2 separate regions of the Homo sapiens genome follow, and region 2 is linked to region 1. A link means that fine-mapping ties the variant in region 1 to the expression of a gene that starts in the linked region. Tissue or cell type: esophagus mucosa. Region 1 holds a variant in brackets; the other region holds the start of a gene. All regions are shown on one strand. Distances are from middle to middle.

Region 1 (8,108 bases):
TCCTGGAGACAATCCCACCTATCTTTCTGAAGAGAGTCAAGACTGACTGTAGACAGAAAGAATGTTCTTACTGCAAGCAAAAAACTGTGCATTCCCCATCAGAGACATAGGCTTTCCCTGCTTACCCACCTGCATCCTCCCATGTGCTGGCTCCTAAACTTTGTAGTCAGTAGCCAAATATGGACAATAAGACCTGAATATTGCTTGTACTAAAGAACCACTTTAAAAAACCTTGGCCCCTGTTTTACACGTTCTGGCTTGTAACAGTGTGAATCACATAGCATGTCCTCAGCAGCTGTGCCCATTCTGAAGCCAGAAAATGGTTCTAGGAATGAGCACAGAGGATGAGGATAGAGACTCACAGGACACAGCTTTCACTACATGGCCAGAAATGCTTTTTGTAAGGCCCAGCCCTTTTGTTCATGAGAAGGTGCTTCTTTGTTTGTCTCATCCATTCACTTGCTTCTTTAATTTCACATTTTATGAATTGTTTAAAATAGCTGATTATCTGAGTATTCTTATACAACTACAGGCACCTTCATCAGGGATTGCCTTAATCCATTTCAAAGCCCAGTGACTACAGTGCATGTCAGCAGGGAAACAGGTGGTTAACAGTGAGTAAATGTTGAGCCATGTTTTGTTCTGTCTCCCTAGCAACAGGATAGAAAAGGGTCTATTTGGATACATTGGTTCCAGCAAGGAGAGAAAAAGGCAAGAAGATGCTTCCTCCTTTTTTCCATGTATCTCTAGCCTCGTATCTACTACTTAGCTCTAGAAAAAAAAAAAAGTGGAGAACACAGGTACAAAAAGTATATTTACTACACAAATAACTCATGAAGGCTCTACGATGATATCTCAAGATCGGGACACTTCCTCGTCTCCTTCTCATGTGGCAGTAGATTGCATTATTGGTACCAGTTATTGACTCCCACTTTCTTATAAGAAGATTTTCTTATCCCATCCAATGCATAGGCATGTGCTATGCTTTAGAGGTAATGGAATTTGAGAAGAAATTATGAATGCCACAACCAAGCATAACCCTAAGAGCCATCACGTACTTCTGTGATTGCTTCTGTTCCTGCTGTCATAAGAATGGCATGTCTTTCAATCTGGATCCCAGAACCCAAAAGACATGCAAAAAACTGCAACTGACCCCCACCAGACCCACAGCTAACATGTATATAAACAAGAAATTAATTAATTATGAGTATCTGAGTTTTGGGGGTCATTTCTTACCATAGCGATAACCTAGTGAAAATGAATGAATAAAGAAATCAGTACCAGTTATGAGGTGTCACCAGAATGAAAAGCTAAAACATTTATCTCCAGTCCAGGAGATAGGCAGTTGCAAAGCTCTTATTAACTCCTGGAAAATAAGAGTGACTCGTGTTTTTATTGATAAGGCATTTTGCTACAATGTGTGTATGATAAGTTGGAATGAGCTTATGAATTTAGCCAAAGAGTCTGGGAGACTGAAGGCAACTAGCATGTTTTAGCTGCTGTTGGCTACTTTAGAAAAGGTATTACAAGAACAAGATAATTTCGGATAATAAATTGTGTATCTGACAGCAAGGTCAAAAGATGGAATTGACTGTTCTCTCCAAATGATGCGAGCTGAAATTGAGGAACAAGGATCAAAACTCAGTGTTACAGTAAAGACCAAATCATTGGCCTCATGCCCTTTGTTATGACCTCTGAATTGAATGAAGGGAAATCAAGTCAACACTTTTTATGCGGAATGTCTCAGAGAACAAAAAAGCCAAAGGGTGTGACTCTTTCTTGGAAGTCTGCTACCTCAATTTACTTCATCTTACCTCAAGCTAAGGTAGAACAGGTCATGAAAAGAATTGTGGATATAACTGTCGGCACACTGGAATTTTGCAGAACAAAAACTAATTAGGCTTTGAGAGAGTTGTACTGCCAAAATAGCCTGTAGCTGTTTGAGAAGTAAAATTACCTTTGAGCCAACAATATTCTGTTCTTTTCCCAAAGAGAGAATATTCTTTTATGCCCAATTCTCATGTGGCCAAGGAAATGGATGGGGAAGGATGGACTTCCCGGGGTGTGGAGCCAAGAATCTCAGAGTATGACCGACTAGAGACCTGCTCCAAGGCAGCAGACACTGGGATGGTTGAAATAAGGTTGTCTACCAACTAGCTGGGGGTCCTCACAATGTTTGTCCGAACAGATTTCAGAATTTTTGTTACGCACTGATGGCTGAGTGCCGCCTTCCTTCCCCTTTCTGAAAGCGAGTATTTATCGAGATTACCCTGCCCCAATATTACATGTGGATTGTGTGATTGTGTGTGGAGCCGCCAACATATCTTTCAAATCTCTAGATACCAAAGACCCTATACAGTAAAGTTAAAGTGCCATATGAGATCCAAGACTTGAAGTCTGATGGTGTGATTAGATGACACACTGGGGGTTCACTTAAAGGAGGGAGTGGCTTCTGCATACTTAAGGGAAATGAAGCAATATTTGTAACCAGGTTTGTACTGTGAGTGGTCTCAAGTACCATTCTCTGGTATTTTTATGAAAGTGAAATTTAATGTCATTTTCCCATAAAATTATCTTGAATATTATTGATAGCTGTGCTTTAGGTTAATGTTTTTTTAAATGATTGACACCTTAAATTGACACTTTACTGTACATCTTATTATTTCTAACTGGCAAGCTAATTTTTCTACAGGTACTGAGGAAGTTGGTAAGTGGATACTCCCACTTCTATTTTTAAGTAACATCTTTGCTTAAAAAGACAAAACCTTTTTGCTTTGTCTTTTTTTTTTGTTTGCTTAAAAAGACAAAATTTTTATAAAAAAGATATAAAAAGATGAAAATATGAAAAGTTTCCAAAGGTGAGTAACACATAAAATACTCAAATTATAAAAATAAAAATTCAGTAGCTAAAATTAAGAACTTTGTATGAGTGAATAATAGAGTGAATAATACATAGAAAGATCAACAGCTAATATATTAAAGTAATTACAGAGATAAATTATTGAAAATCTATATTTGAGACATTTAGGAAACAGTAAAGATTTGAACATTATTTGGAATTAGAATCTGCAAAGTAGAAGAAAGAGAGATAAATGGGACCAAAGCAGTATCTGAGGAAATAATGCCTGAGGATTTTCCAAAATTGATGAAGACCTCAAACAGTTAAATTCTGGAGCCTTAAGATTTCATGGAGCTTACCTTGCTAGATTTTGGACTTGATTGGGACCCATTCACCCCTTCCTTCTTTCCTGTTACTCCTTTTTGAAATGGGAGTGACTACCCTATACCATGACGGTTGTATTTTGTATAACTTGTTCGATTACACAGGTTCACAGCTAGAGAGGAATTCTGCCTCAGGATGAATTGTTCTTTCCATTGTTGTTTTTCATTGTTCCCTCACCCTTCCCTATAAAAAGGATATACTCTATGTCTCACAGACATTCTGCTTGGGCCTACAACTGCCTTTGAGAATGTGAGCTGAAGTGATGGTTGCCACGACCACGTAGATACTTGAAGATATGCATCCAAAGATGTGTGATTACTTTTCCTTCTGCTGTAATGTGGTGTGTTTGCCACCTAGATCCCAGAAGATACATGAAACAAAGCAGTAGTCAACCATTGTTATTTTTATACATGAAGAAGAAATAGGTGTTCGTGATTGCAAATCAACGTAATTCTGAGGGGTCTTTGATACTGCAGTACAACTTATTAAAGTTGATTAGCATGTCTGCCATAAGTTCAATTTATTCAGGGAATCATGAGTTTTGTTTACAAGAACAAAAATCTGAGAAAAACAGGCCTTTTCTCAGATTTTAAACATTAACACCTCATTTTGTCATATAGCCCAAGTTTCAGACCCCCTGACCTCTCTCTGTCCAGATCACACAAAGGGAAGCATTGGGTAGTGGGAAATTCTGTGTGATTCTTCCCCATGAGCGTGGAGGCCCTACATGGGGTATTAGAGCCAGAAAGCTGTGAGGACAGAATGCAGCTGTTGGGGGCCAGTGGGGTGGGGAGTCTGAGCAAGGTGGGGAGGTACAGGGAGAAGACAGCAGCCACTATGGGAGAGTGATCACACATTGTAGAAGCATTAAGTCAGCACATGGGTGAAGGATAATGAAAACCAGAACTTCACTCTTGGAGAATGGACTTCCACACAGCCCTCCTCAATCCCAGTGCTGGGCCCTGTCCTTGGACACTTTCCTTATCTTGTTAGGGTCCAGCACCTTGTACTGCCCTGTCATGCGTCCTTTTTTTTTGAGACAGAGTCTTGCTCTGTTGCCCAGGCTGGAGTGCAATTGTGTGATCTTGGTTCACTGCAACCTCCACCTCCTGGGTTCAACTGATTCTCCTGCCTCAGCCTCCTGAGTAGCTGGGGTTACAGGCACCTGTCACCACGCCCAGCTAATTTTTTCATTTTTAGTAGAGACCAGGTTTCACCATATTGTCCAGGCTGGTCTTAAACTCCTGACCTCAGGTGATCCGCCAGCCTCGGCCTCCCACAGTGCTGGGATTACGGGTGTGAGCCACTGCACCCGGCCCCTCATGGCTACTTCTAATGTCCCTTTTCCCCAGAAACCAAACATATATACATCTTCCCTTTCACAATATTCCTTGTCCCCTTCCATGTTGCAAGGGAAACATTCAGGAACTTGGGGTAACCAAGCCACTGCCCACAGTTCATGCGTGGGCTCTGGAAGAAGCCCATTCCACCTCCATTCTCTAAACACCCTCCCAGAGCACCACCTGGTCCTTACCTTAGGAAGAAAAAAATATCACACTT[T/C]CAACAAATCTAAGACTGGCTACCAGGTTATACAAGAGATGTCCAATTAAACATCTTGATTTTTCTTACCTCACACTCAGCCCACCGCTTTTAAGCATTCAAAATTCTAAGATTCAGAGGGTGAAAAAGAGGCCTGCTTGCAGAATTCCAAATAATATATGCAGATACTCCGCCATCAGGGAGGGGAGCATAATCCCTGAAGTGGGGACTGCACACAGTGACTTTCTGTCAATAACTACAGTATGGAAAGGGGAAAAAGAGCTTTTACCATGGAGAAACCTGGAAAACACTACCTCATCCATGTGATTTAAGTCAACATCAACAGCGATCAGTCATGATGACAGCATGCACTCCTGATACCATATTATGAAAACAATGATGACCTCTGTGGTCTTCCCTTGCTAACCCAAAAACTCCAGTCTAATCATGAGAAAAACAGCACTGAATTTCCAATAGATTCCCGGTGGTGGTGGCTCACACGTGTAATCCCAGCACTTTGGGAGACTGAGGCAGGCAGATCACTTGAGGTCAGGGGTTCGAGACCAGCCTGGCCAACATGGTGAAACACTGTCTCTACTAAAAATACATAAGTCATCAGGGGTGTGGTGGTGTACACCTGTTATTCCAGCTACTTGAGAGGCTGAGGCAGGATAATCATTTGAACCCGGGAGGAAGGGGTTGCAGTGAGCCAAGATCGAGCTACTGAACACACAGCCTGGGTGACACAGCAAGACTCTATCTCAAAAATAAATAAATAAATAAATTTCCAGTAGAGGGGCAGTCTACAAAATATCTGACCAGGACTCCCCAAAACTATCAAGGTCATCAAAACTGGAGTCCCTGTGACAACCAGGAGTCGTCTAAGGAAGCATGACAAATAGATATAAATGTGGTATCCTGGATGGGATCCTGAAGCAGATAAAGGACATTAGGGTACTAGGTAAAAACTAAAGGAATAGCAATAAAGCATGGACTTTAGTTAACAATCATGTCAGTATTGGTCGCTTAGTAGTGATAAATATGCCACTAATGCAAGATGTTAGTAATGGGGAAAACTGGGTGTAGGGCATACAGGAACTCTCTGTATCACCACTGCAACTTTTATTTAAATCTAAAGCAAGCCCCCTTCCTCACCCTGCTTGCTACTACCCACAAGTTGTGCGGGTAGGAACAATTCCCTCTTTTCTCCTTCTGTGAGTCAAGGTAGACTTAGAAAAACAAAGAGGGGTATCCGGGAAGACCCCAGCATGGAAAGTCACCCCTTTTTCACCCCTCCACCCCCCACCCTCATAAAACTGCAAAGGCAGGAAGAAATCTCTCCAGTGCGCCAGAAAGAACGGACCAGTATCAAGAGGACGCCTCCCAGAAAGGACAAAACCAATGTGCCTGTCTTTTACACAAACAAATTTCCCATTGAACATGTTCAGAATCACGACTCTGCAGTTTCCCTGAAAAGAATTATTATATCTAAGGACACCGATTCACCAGTTTCACAGTAACTCTGTACTGGCCTGACTTTGTAGCCAGCAGTTAGCACTTCTTCCCCCTCCCCGCCTGCCAGGGGGTGATGCTATGAATTCGCAGTAGGAATAAGGAGCTGGAGCAAGATTCCTACTCGACGGTGGATAGCTGGACTTCCTCAGGCACGACTGGCCTGCAAACCATATAGGTCAGGAAGCAGGTGTCCAGGCTGCCAGAGCATCTCCTGATCCTATGAAAAATGGGCATTTTCCCAGTTTGGAATATTGTGGACCCAATTTCAAACATCCTGCCTTCCACTAGGATGAGCCACACACACCCGACCCCTTAGCCCTTCAACTCTGTTCCTGCTTAGCACAAATGTGTGGGTAGTAGCAAGCAGGGTCAGGAAGGGGGGCAGGAAACAGAGCACAGATTTTATAGATGAGCTTTAGTTCTCCCACAAGGGCTGCCTCCAGTCAGTCCTCCTGAAATGTTATCCACACAGGCCTTGAAGCAACCTTTATGAAAGTGCAGTTGCCTCATGGCCCACATCGTGTTTCATAGATGATCAAGGTGGGCTCTTTTATCCTATGTCTAAGTTTTATGTTTTGTGTGTGGATGAATATGTGAAAGTTGATGGAGTAGATTAATCTGCAGTCACACTTAGGAGTCAGTCCATGAGGAGAAACATCCTACTACAAATGTGAGCTCAAAAAGAAAAGGAGAAAAATGAACAGGCAGCACTCGTCCCTCCTCTTCTTACCTTGTACAGGTCAAAGGGAGGCACAGCTGTGGCCCAGAGAGACCTCTCTGATCCATACCACATGCTCATCTCTCCTGGCATTCTCCACACTACACCCTCCCTCCACCAGCCCTCTTCACCTTAACTCTCAGAAACACAGTTGGTGCCTCAGTAGGTCTGATGCCACCAGCCTTTACTCAGAATGTGCTTAATCCAATTAGAGCATTCTATCACATTAGAGAGTTCACATTGATTCTCTCCCTCTGAAGTCGGGCCGCATACACAGAGAAACCATCTGGGACTCAGCCATGTTCAGTGAAGAATGTGGATGGCATGGGCATCCTTCCCATTTGGGGATCAAGCCTTCTCTTCTTCAGCTGCAGCTCCTCCAGTGTAATACATGTCCATTTATCAAACTCCTATCTCCTTTCACTTCCGGTCTCTATCACATATTATCTGAGTTTGCTCAGTCACTTGATTTCTATTTATGAATAGTACACTATGGCTGACCTATGGGACAGGGCAGTGTGTGGATCAGGTCTATTTACAGGGAAGATAGCTTGGTCTATATCCACAGTGACAGCTTATGAGGAGAAAGGACATGCAAGAAGAGAAAGCATTGCTGGCATCCCTGTCTGTTCTGTGCCAAGAGCCATCATGTTCCTGCTTCCACTCCAATCTTACTCTCATGCCCTCCATGCATCTAAGAGGAGGATGCAGTGCCAACAAAGCCTTCCAGCACATGAAGAAAATTCACATTCCTTAACATTTTCCAGTCCAGCGCTGCCACATCTCCACAGCAGGCAAAACTTTCTTTTCTAAGACACGCTCCTTGCAAACTTTTGGGTATATATCCAGTGGTCTCATAAAACATGTCCTGGGTGTCACATTCAGAACGGGGCATCAGAAGATGAAAATGAGAAATGGTTCCCTTTTTGTTTCTCCCTTCAATCAAATTTTCCTCCTTACCCCATCAGATTTTAAAGTACCACTTACTAAATTACAGTAAGTACTCATTCATTCTGACTCATAGTTCACAAAATATCTGGGATTTATTCTATTGCATATTAGAACCTCCACAGCCCATACCAAATTATACCACCCCATAGTTACATTTGTTTT
Region 2 (8,108 bases), 940 kb after region 1:
ATAATCCAGGCCTCCTCATCTCTGCCAATCTCAGCCTTCTGCTGAAGAATTTGGAATCACGACCCCTGTTTGTAGCAAGAAGACCAAATTGTGTAAACTAGTAACAAAGACCCTGCATCATTTGTTCCAAACCTACCTTTTAGATCTCTCTTTTTTTTTTTTTTGAGACAGAGTCTCACTCTGTTGCCCAGGCTGGAGTGCAGTGACGCAATCTCTGCTCACTGCAAGCTCCGCCTCCTGGGTTCATGCCATTCTCCTGCCTCTGCCTCCCGAGTAGCTGGGACTACAGGCGCCCACCACTACACTAGGCAAATTTTTTGCATTTTTTAATTTTTTTGGATGCAGAGTCTCGCTCTATCCCCCAGGCTGGAGTGCGCTGGCGCAATCTTGGCTCACTGCAACCTCTGCCTCCCAGGTTCAAGTGATTCTCCTGCCTCAGCCTCCTGAGTATCTGGGATTACAGGTGCCTGCAACCACGCCCAGCTAATTTTTGTATTTTTAGTAGAGATGGGGTTTCGCCATGTTGGTCAGGCTGGTCTTGAACTCCTGACCTCGGGTGATCCTTCTGCCTCGGCCTCCCAAAGTGCTGGGATTACAGGCGTGAGTTACCGTGCCCGGCCAATATTTTGGGTTTTTTTTTTAGTAGAGATGGGGTTTCACCATGTTAGCCAGGATGGTCTCGATCTCCTGACCTTGTGATCCACCCACCTCAGCCTCCCAAAGTGCTGGGATTACAGGCGTAAGCCACCGCGCCCAGCCTAGATCTTATTTCCCCATACCATATTTCACACATCCTGTGTTCTACCCCGGTCAGCACTCTGCTGCTATTCTAACCTGCTCCTACCTTTCCTCCTCCATATTTGGTTGACACTAACTACCCCTCTGTTACGGTTACTTTGGTACTTAACTAGTATTGCCTTCACTGTGGCTCCCAGTGAACATGTGGCTTGCTTATATCATTTACTCAACCAACCAACGTTTACTGAGCATGTACAATATTCTAGGAGCAGGGGTACAACAGCCCACATGGGGTTATCTCCTGCTAGAGGTAGGGCGAAATAATAAACGAAATAAAGACATTATTCTGGAAAAGTGGCAAATGTTATGGTAAAAAATAAAACATGTGAAGGGCACTGGGGAGTTGAGTTGGGGGATTCTAATGACCATAGTTAGGAGGCCTTGCTGAGCAGTAACACTTGAGTAGAAGCTTCAAAGAGCTTTTTGAAAAGAACAAAGGAGAGAGAAGCAAGTGCAGGGGCTCTGAGGTATGAGCGGGTGTGCAGTTTCCTAAACAAAGGCCACTGTGGCTGACCTTGAGTGAGGGCAGGTGAGATACATTAGCGTGAAAAAGCGAGTGTCCGGCCGGGCGCGGTGGCTCACGCCTATAATCCCAGCACTTTGGGAGGTCGAGGCGGGTGGATCATGAGGTCAGGAGTTCGAGACCAGCCTGACCAACATGGTGAAACCCCGACTCTACTAAAAATACAAAAATCAGCCAGGCATGGTGGCGGGCGCCTGTAATCCCAGCTACTCGGGAGGCTGAGGCAGGAGAATCGCTAGAAACTGGAGGGCGGAGGTTGCAGTGAGCCGAGATCGCACAGCTGCACTCTAGCCTGGGCAACAAGAGCAAAACTGCATCTCAGAAGAAAAAAAAAGGTGAGTGTCAGATCACGTGGGGCCCTATGGGCCATACACAAACCCAAAAGGCAAGGAACAGATCTGCAACCCATTTATTTGGCCAGATCATAATTTATTTTCATCTGGAGCCATTACAGAACTATTTAAGTAGTTCTGTTTCAACTTCATTTACATAAAACAAATAGATATGCAGAAATGTTTAAGGATGCTCTAATCTAGTCTGAGGGGTGTATTTAATTCTACAACACAGATAAATCTTTGCAAATTGTGTATATTTGAGATTTATGTTATGGGAAACATACAGATACTAACACAGTTACCACAGTAGAGCAAATCAACATATCTATCATCTCATGTAGTTACTTTTTTATGACAAAAGCAGCTAAAATCTACTCATTGAAGGAAAATCTCTAATACAATTTCATTAGCTGTAGTTCTCAAGTTGTACATCCTGAATATCTGCTACTTTGTATCCTGTGACCTAAATCTCCCATTTCCTCTCCCACCCCCACCCCACCTTTTATTCTCTGCAGAAGTCTTATCTTTCTGTTCAATATCACAATGTATAGCAATCAAATAAATCAGTTTAAATGAAGCTTACACCATCTATAAAAAAATGTAATATTCAAAGTCATGTGTTTTAAATATGAGTAAACCATATTTACCTATTAAAAACATTCTGAAAATATGTGAAATTCTTTTTATTATCTCTCCCTAACAATAGCTACCACTTACTGAACACCTCCCCAGGCACTATTCCATGCATCATTTCTACTCATTTCTCTTCTACGCAATAAGATGAAGGTATCACTTTACAGCTAAGGAAACCTCCCAGGGGTAAAAAAGAGTCACATGCAGAGGACCACACAGAAAGGGACTTTACTTCTACACCCGGCTGCCCACATTACATTAACACTTTAGAGCTCTTAGGTCGGGCGCGGTGGCTCACGCCTGTAATCCCAGCACTTTGGGGGGTCGAGGCGGGCGGATCACCTGAGGTCAGGAGTTAAGAGACCAGCCTGGCCAACAAGGTGAAACCCCCGTCTCTACTAAAAATACAAAAATTAGCTGGGCGTGGTCGCCGGCGCCTGTAACCCCAGCTACTCCGGAGGCTGAGGCAGGAGAACCGCTTGAACCCAGGAGGCGGAGGTTGCAGTGAGCAGAGATCGTGCCACTGCACTCCAGCCCGAGTGACAGAGCAAGATTCCATCTCAAAAAAAAAAAAACAAAAAAAAAAACTATATATAGAGCTCTTAGTTTTCTACGAAATCTTTACTACCTGGTTTCCACTGCTATCTAAGTTAGCTTAGGCCCGGCTCGGTGGCTCACACCTGTAATCCCCGCACTTTGGAGGCCAAGGTGGTTGGATCGCTTAAGTCCAGAATTAGGAGACCAGCCGGTGTAACATGGTGAAACCCCGGTTCTAAAAAAAATACAAAAATTAGCCAGGCATGGTGCCGCACGTCTGTGGTCCCAGCTGCTGGGGAGGCTGAGGTGGGAGGAGCACTTGAGCCCGGGAGGCGGAAGTTGCAGTGAGCCCAGATTGCACCGTCTAGCCTGGGGACAGAGCAAGACCTTGGCTCAGAAAAATTAAATACATGTTAGATTTAATTTTTTCCAACCTCTCACTTGGCTAATAATTTTTCAAAGCAGTACTGTACTTATAAATATTACAGAACCTAAATCTCCAACCCTAACTATGCAACAATATTAGTTATAAATTACAATTTTAACTTACATGTAAGTTTAATATGGTCTCTCTTATGAAAAAAAGGCTGGGAGAGGTTAGAGATGACTTATTCACTCTCATTTCCTCGTAAATACCACCCTTTATTCTCATTTAAAGTCTTAAACCCTGGCCGAGTAGCTCCAGCCTAGAAAGAAGAAAACACAGAAGTAGGCAAAAGACTTAAAGTTACTAAGTACGTTTTATAATTTGGTTACTAGCCTTCATACTCATTTTGCCAACCAATCAACATAAAACCTACTCAATCGAGCACAACTACTGCTTCGACAGGCAGCTTACTGGAATGGAAACTCTCGACTCTGATATTTCCTCTTACTAAAAAAAGTATTAACCGGGCACATGGCTATACACAGGATTTCTAGAAACAGAACTTAACATGCAGTCCTGTATTAAATGAACTAACAACCTAGAAAAGAAATTAAGGAGGCACAAACACCAAACTAAACACACAGTTTTGAGCAATTGTATAGAGAGGGAAATAGGATTCCGTGATTTTATAAAAGGAAATTAAAACAGTCAGGCTCAAAACGTCACAGCAGACTTCTAAGGCTTGTTTAACTGTCAGTTATGATCCCCGCAGCAGCTGAAGCCACCTTCTAAAACTCACCAAGACAAATGAAATTATTTTAATGAACTTAATGAACATGCGTCCCCGACATGGCCAACGAGCCAGGCTTCCGTGGGACTGAACGGCAATCCGATTCACGGTGGGTTTCCTCACTGAGGATTACAGGAAAACCGCTTCAGAACACCCGGAAAGGAAAGTTGCCCGAAGAACCCTTCTCCGACACAAGGCGGGCTGGCTCGCCACCAAGTCAGCCCCTTCGCGCTTGCCTGAAAGGAAGGAGTGGCGACCTCACCCTAGTCGGCCGGCCGGCCGCGCGGCTTCCCCTCGCCGGCGCAGCCTTGGGCACCGCGGCTCACACCCCCACACAGGCCGCCCAGTCCTGCGCTCGCACGGCCACCGCCTTCGTCGCCGTCCAGTGGGAGATGCGAGCATTCGGGGCTGAAGCCGTTCGCACCGCCTCCTCCATGGAGAAGCGCCGAGGAAAACCTGCCAAGGACAACCTCCGGCACCGCCGTCACCACCGCTGCCGGGACCTAGGGCCGGCGCCGGAAAACCTAGGCGCGGCTAAATGACGCAAGAGGCCTCGCGCGCACGCGCAGTGCCGCACCACGTACACCCCGCCCCCGGGGCTCTCTCCCGCCGGGTTCCGGTTCCTTTACAAGGCCCCAGTCGGCTGAGCGCGGAGGGCGGGGCGCGTAGAGTGTGGGGACGGGGGCGGGGCGCAGGATCCAGGCGGGACCTGGCGAGGGACGAAGCTGGAAGCGTAGTTAAGCAGTACAGTATGCTGCCAGGTGGCGTTGGCCGATCAGTTCAAAATCAAACTCCGGCGTGGCCCTTATTTAAAACGAGGATTCCGGGCCCGGCGCTGTGGCTCACGCCTGTAATCCCAGCACTTTGGGAGACCAAGGCGGGCGGATCCCGAGGTCAGCAGATCGAGACCATCCTGGCTAACACGGTGAAACCCCGCCCCTACTAAAAATACAAAAAATTAGCCGGGCGTGGTGGCGGGTGCTTGTAGTCCCAGCTACTCGGGACACTGAGGCAGGAGAAGGGCGCGAACCCGGGAGGCGGAGCTTGCAGTGATCGGAGATCCCGCCACTGCACTCCAGCCTGGGCGACAGAGCGAGACTCCGTCTCAAAAAAAAATAGAATAAATGAGGGTTCCGGCCGGGCGCGGTGGCTCACACCTGTAATCACAGCACTTTGGGAGGCCGAGGCGGGCAGATCACGAGGTCAGGAGTTCGAGACCAACGTGACCAACATGGGGAAACCGCATCTCTACTAAAAATACAAAAATTAGCTGGACGTGTTGGTGCGCGCCAGTAATCTCAGCTACTCCAGAGGCTGAGGCAGGGGAATCGCTTGAACTCGGGAGGCGGAGGTTGCAGTGAGCCGAGATCAGCCACTGCACTCCACCTGGGCGACAGAGCGAGACTCCTTCTCAAAAATAAATAAATAAATAAAATAAAATGAGGGTTCCCAGGGGCAGTCACAGTGTGAAGCTGCATTTAATTGGTGTCCCCGGGCGATGCCAAAGGGGAACAGAGCTCCCAAGAGGGCAAGAAGCGGGGGAAAGGGTGGGTCCAAAGCTGGGGGCGGGACGGGGCGGGGCCGAAATAGCTGTGGTAGTTCGACGACCGCTGGGCCCTTCCTTACTGACCCGGTCGCGGAATAGATGTGAGGTTGACGTTTGGTGAAAGCCCGCCTCGAGACACTGAGAGCAGATTGATTGAATGATTGATTTTGAGACAGAGTCTCGCTCTGTCGCCAGACTGGAGTGCAGTGGCACGATCTCGGCTCACTGCAAACTCCGCCTCCCCGGTTCAAGCGATTCTCCTGCCTCAGCCTCCCGAATAGCTGGGACTGTAGGCGCGCGCCGCCACGCCCGGCTAATTTTTTTTTTTTTTTAAGACGGAGTCTTTCTTGTCACCCAGGCTGGAGCGCAGTGACACGATCTCGGCTCACTGCAACCTCTGCCTCCTGGGTTCAATGAAGCCATTCTCCTGCCTCAGCCTCCCCAGTAGCTGGGATTACAGGTGCACACCACCACGCCCAGCTAATTTTTGTATTTTTAGTAGAGATGGGGTTTCACCATGTTGGCCAGGCTGGTTTCGAACTCCTGACCTCGTGATCCGCCCGCCTCGGCCTCCCAAAGTGCTGGGATTACAGGTGTGAGCCACCACACCCAGCCAATTTTTGCATTTTTATTAGAGACAGGGTTTCACCATGTTGGCCAGGATGGTCTCGATCTCTTGACCTCGTGATTCACCCGCCTCAGCCTCCCAAAGCGCAGATTTATTTTTCATGAGATGTATAGGAAACTAACTGTTAGGCTATCCTGCCTTGGCTCCTCCTGGAAAGGAGAAATTCCTTGGGATCCACCAACGTGGTTTCTGCAAAAGTAGTCAAAGACAGAGCTCATTTGTAAGAAGCAAAGAGTAGCCAGCTAGAGTTAGATCTCCTAGTAAATCAATGATTCCTTGGTTGCAGGTGTAGAGTCCCTTAGGAATGTTGTTCCAGGTTGTGACTAGACACAAAAACACTATTATATGAAATTCAAATCATGTGGGGGGAGGATCTTTATAAAATGAATTATGCACTTTTTGAAACAAAACACCAAATATCATTTGTCCTTTTCAGGCTCTAATCCTATTGGACTGTTGTGTTCTAGACTGTATACACAGCCCCTGACCACTCTGGTTTTGGTTTAGGTCACTATGCAGCTTCTAATTTTAAAGCTTTTAATCTGCCGTGAGCCTAGCAATCATCTTAAAACTGGCTCAGAGGACCTATTACTTGCATCTCAGAACTGGCTCAGAGGATCTATTACTTTCTTTGGTCTCAGCCATGTTTTGGCTAGTTGACACTCTCAGATAAGGAATTCCATTGAATATTGAAAGACGGTTGACAAGTTGGTCTCAGGTGATGTGGTAGATTGATGAAAAATGGCTCCAATTTCCCACACATTTTGCAGTGACTTTGCAGCTCCCCTCTATTTCCTGAATCTGTACTGGCCTTGGGCTTTGGCCAAGAACATGTGGCAGTTCCAGACTAAATTATGATGCCTGGACTAGCCTGCTGGAGGAGGGGACCACATGGGGCAAGGCAAGCAGCAAATCCACCTAGGTAAATGCTGGCTGACTACCATTGAGACCAGCCACTGACCAAAACTGCCCCATTAACCCATAAACACATGAGGAAGGATAAATTACTATTGTCTGAGCCACTTATTTTGGGGTAGATTGGTATGTAGCAATAACTAACTGATACAGATGCCAACAAATACCTCTAGGACAGAGGTCCCCAAGAGTGCGAACCTTATTGTGAATTGTGCATGCGAGGGATCTAGGTTGCACGCTCCTTATGAGAATCTAAATAATGCCTGATGATCTGAGGTGGGACACTTTCATCCCGAAAACATCCTCCCCGCGCCCCCCTTCCCCAGCGTCTGTGGAAAAATTGTCTTCTATGAAATCAGTCCTTGGTACCAAAAGGGTTGGGGACTGCTGCTCTAGGAGGCAGATGAGTAATAAAGTAGTGGTTTGTTCACATGAACAGGAATGCTTAGGTGTCGATATGTTAATTTAACCTAACGAACAAATTTGCTTGTCACTCCTTTCTGCCAGCTGGAGCTCCACCTCATCTAATCAGCTTTCTGTCATTATTTGGACCTCCCACCGGACACCTCCCCCGACACTGCACAGTGCATTGTCTTTATAAGTCTATATATACCTTGCTAATATGCTGCAGGCTTCTTACATGCCCACATCACTTCTCCAGCCCGTGATGTTGTACATCTTGTATACTCTGAGTGTTCAAGCAGTTGTCATGAGATATTTTTAAGGTTTTAAAACTCTAACTCCTTCTCATACACTACTGGTGGAATTGTAAAATGGGACAATTTCCTTGGAAAATTGGTTGACAGTTTCTTAAAAAGTTAAACATACACCGACCAAATGACCTGGCAGTTCTACTCCTGAGTATTTACTCAACAGAAATGTATCCATAAAAATACTTGCAGGCCGGGTGCGGTGGCTCACACCTGTAATCCCAGCCCTTTGGGAGGCCGAGATGGGCGGATCACGAGGTTAGGAGATTGAGACCATCCCGGCTAACACGGTGAAACCCCGTCTCTACTAAAATTACAAAAATTAG

The links. PIP is the estimated chance that this variant, and not a neighbour inherited with it, causes the effect.
Region 2: it holds the start of NIPA2, and the variant in region 1 is fine-mapped to the expression of NIPA2 in esophagus mucosa (GTEx, PIP above 0.99).

The regions. Positions count from the first base shown.
Region 1 is chr15:23,780,059-23,788,166 of GRCh38, reverse strand. No RefSeq gene overlaps it. Among named protein-coding and RNA genes, the nearest start is that of NDN, 97 kb to the right of the region's middle. The variant T/C (reference allele first, on the strand shown) is at 4,784.
Region 2 is chr15:22,835,059-22,843,166 of GRCh38, reverse strand. NIPA2 (NIPA magnesium transporter 2) reads right to left here and starts at 4,501. Exons shown (of 8, transcript NM_030922.7): 1 at 4,246-4,501; 2 at 3,377-3,512. RefSeq lists an enhancer at 4,375-4,604.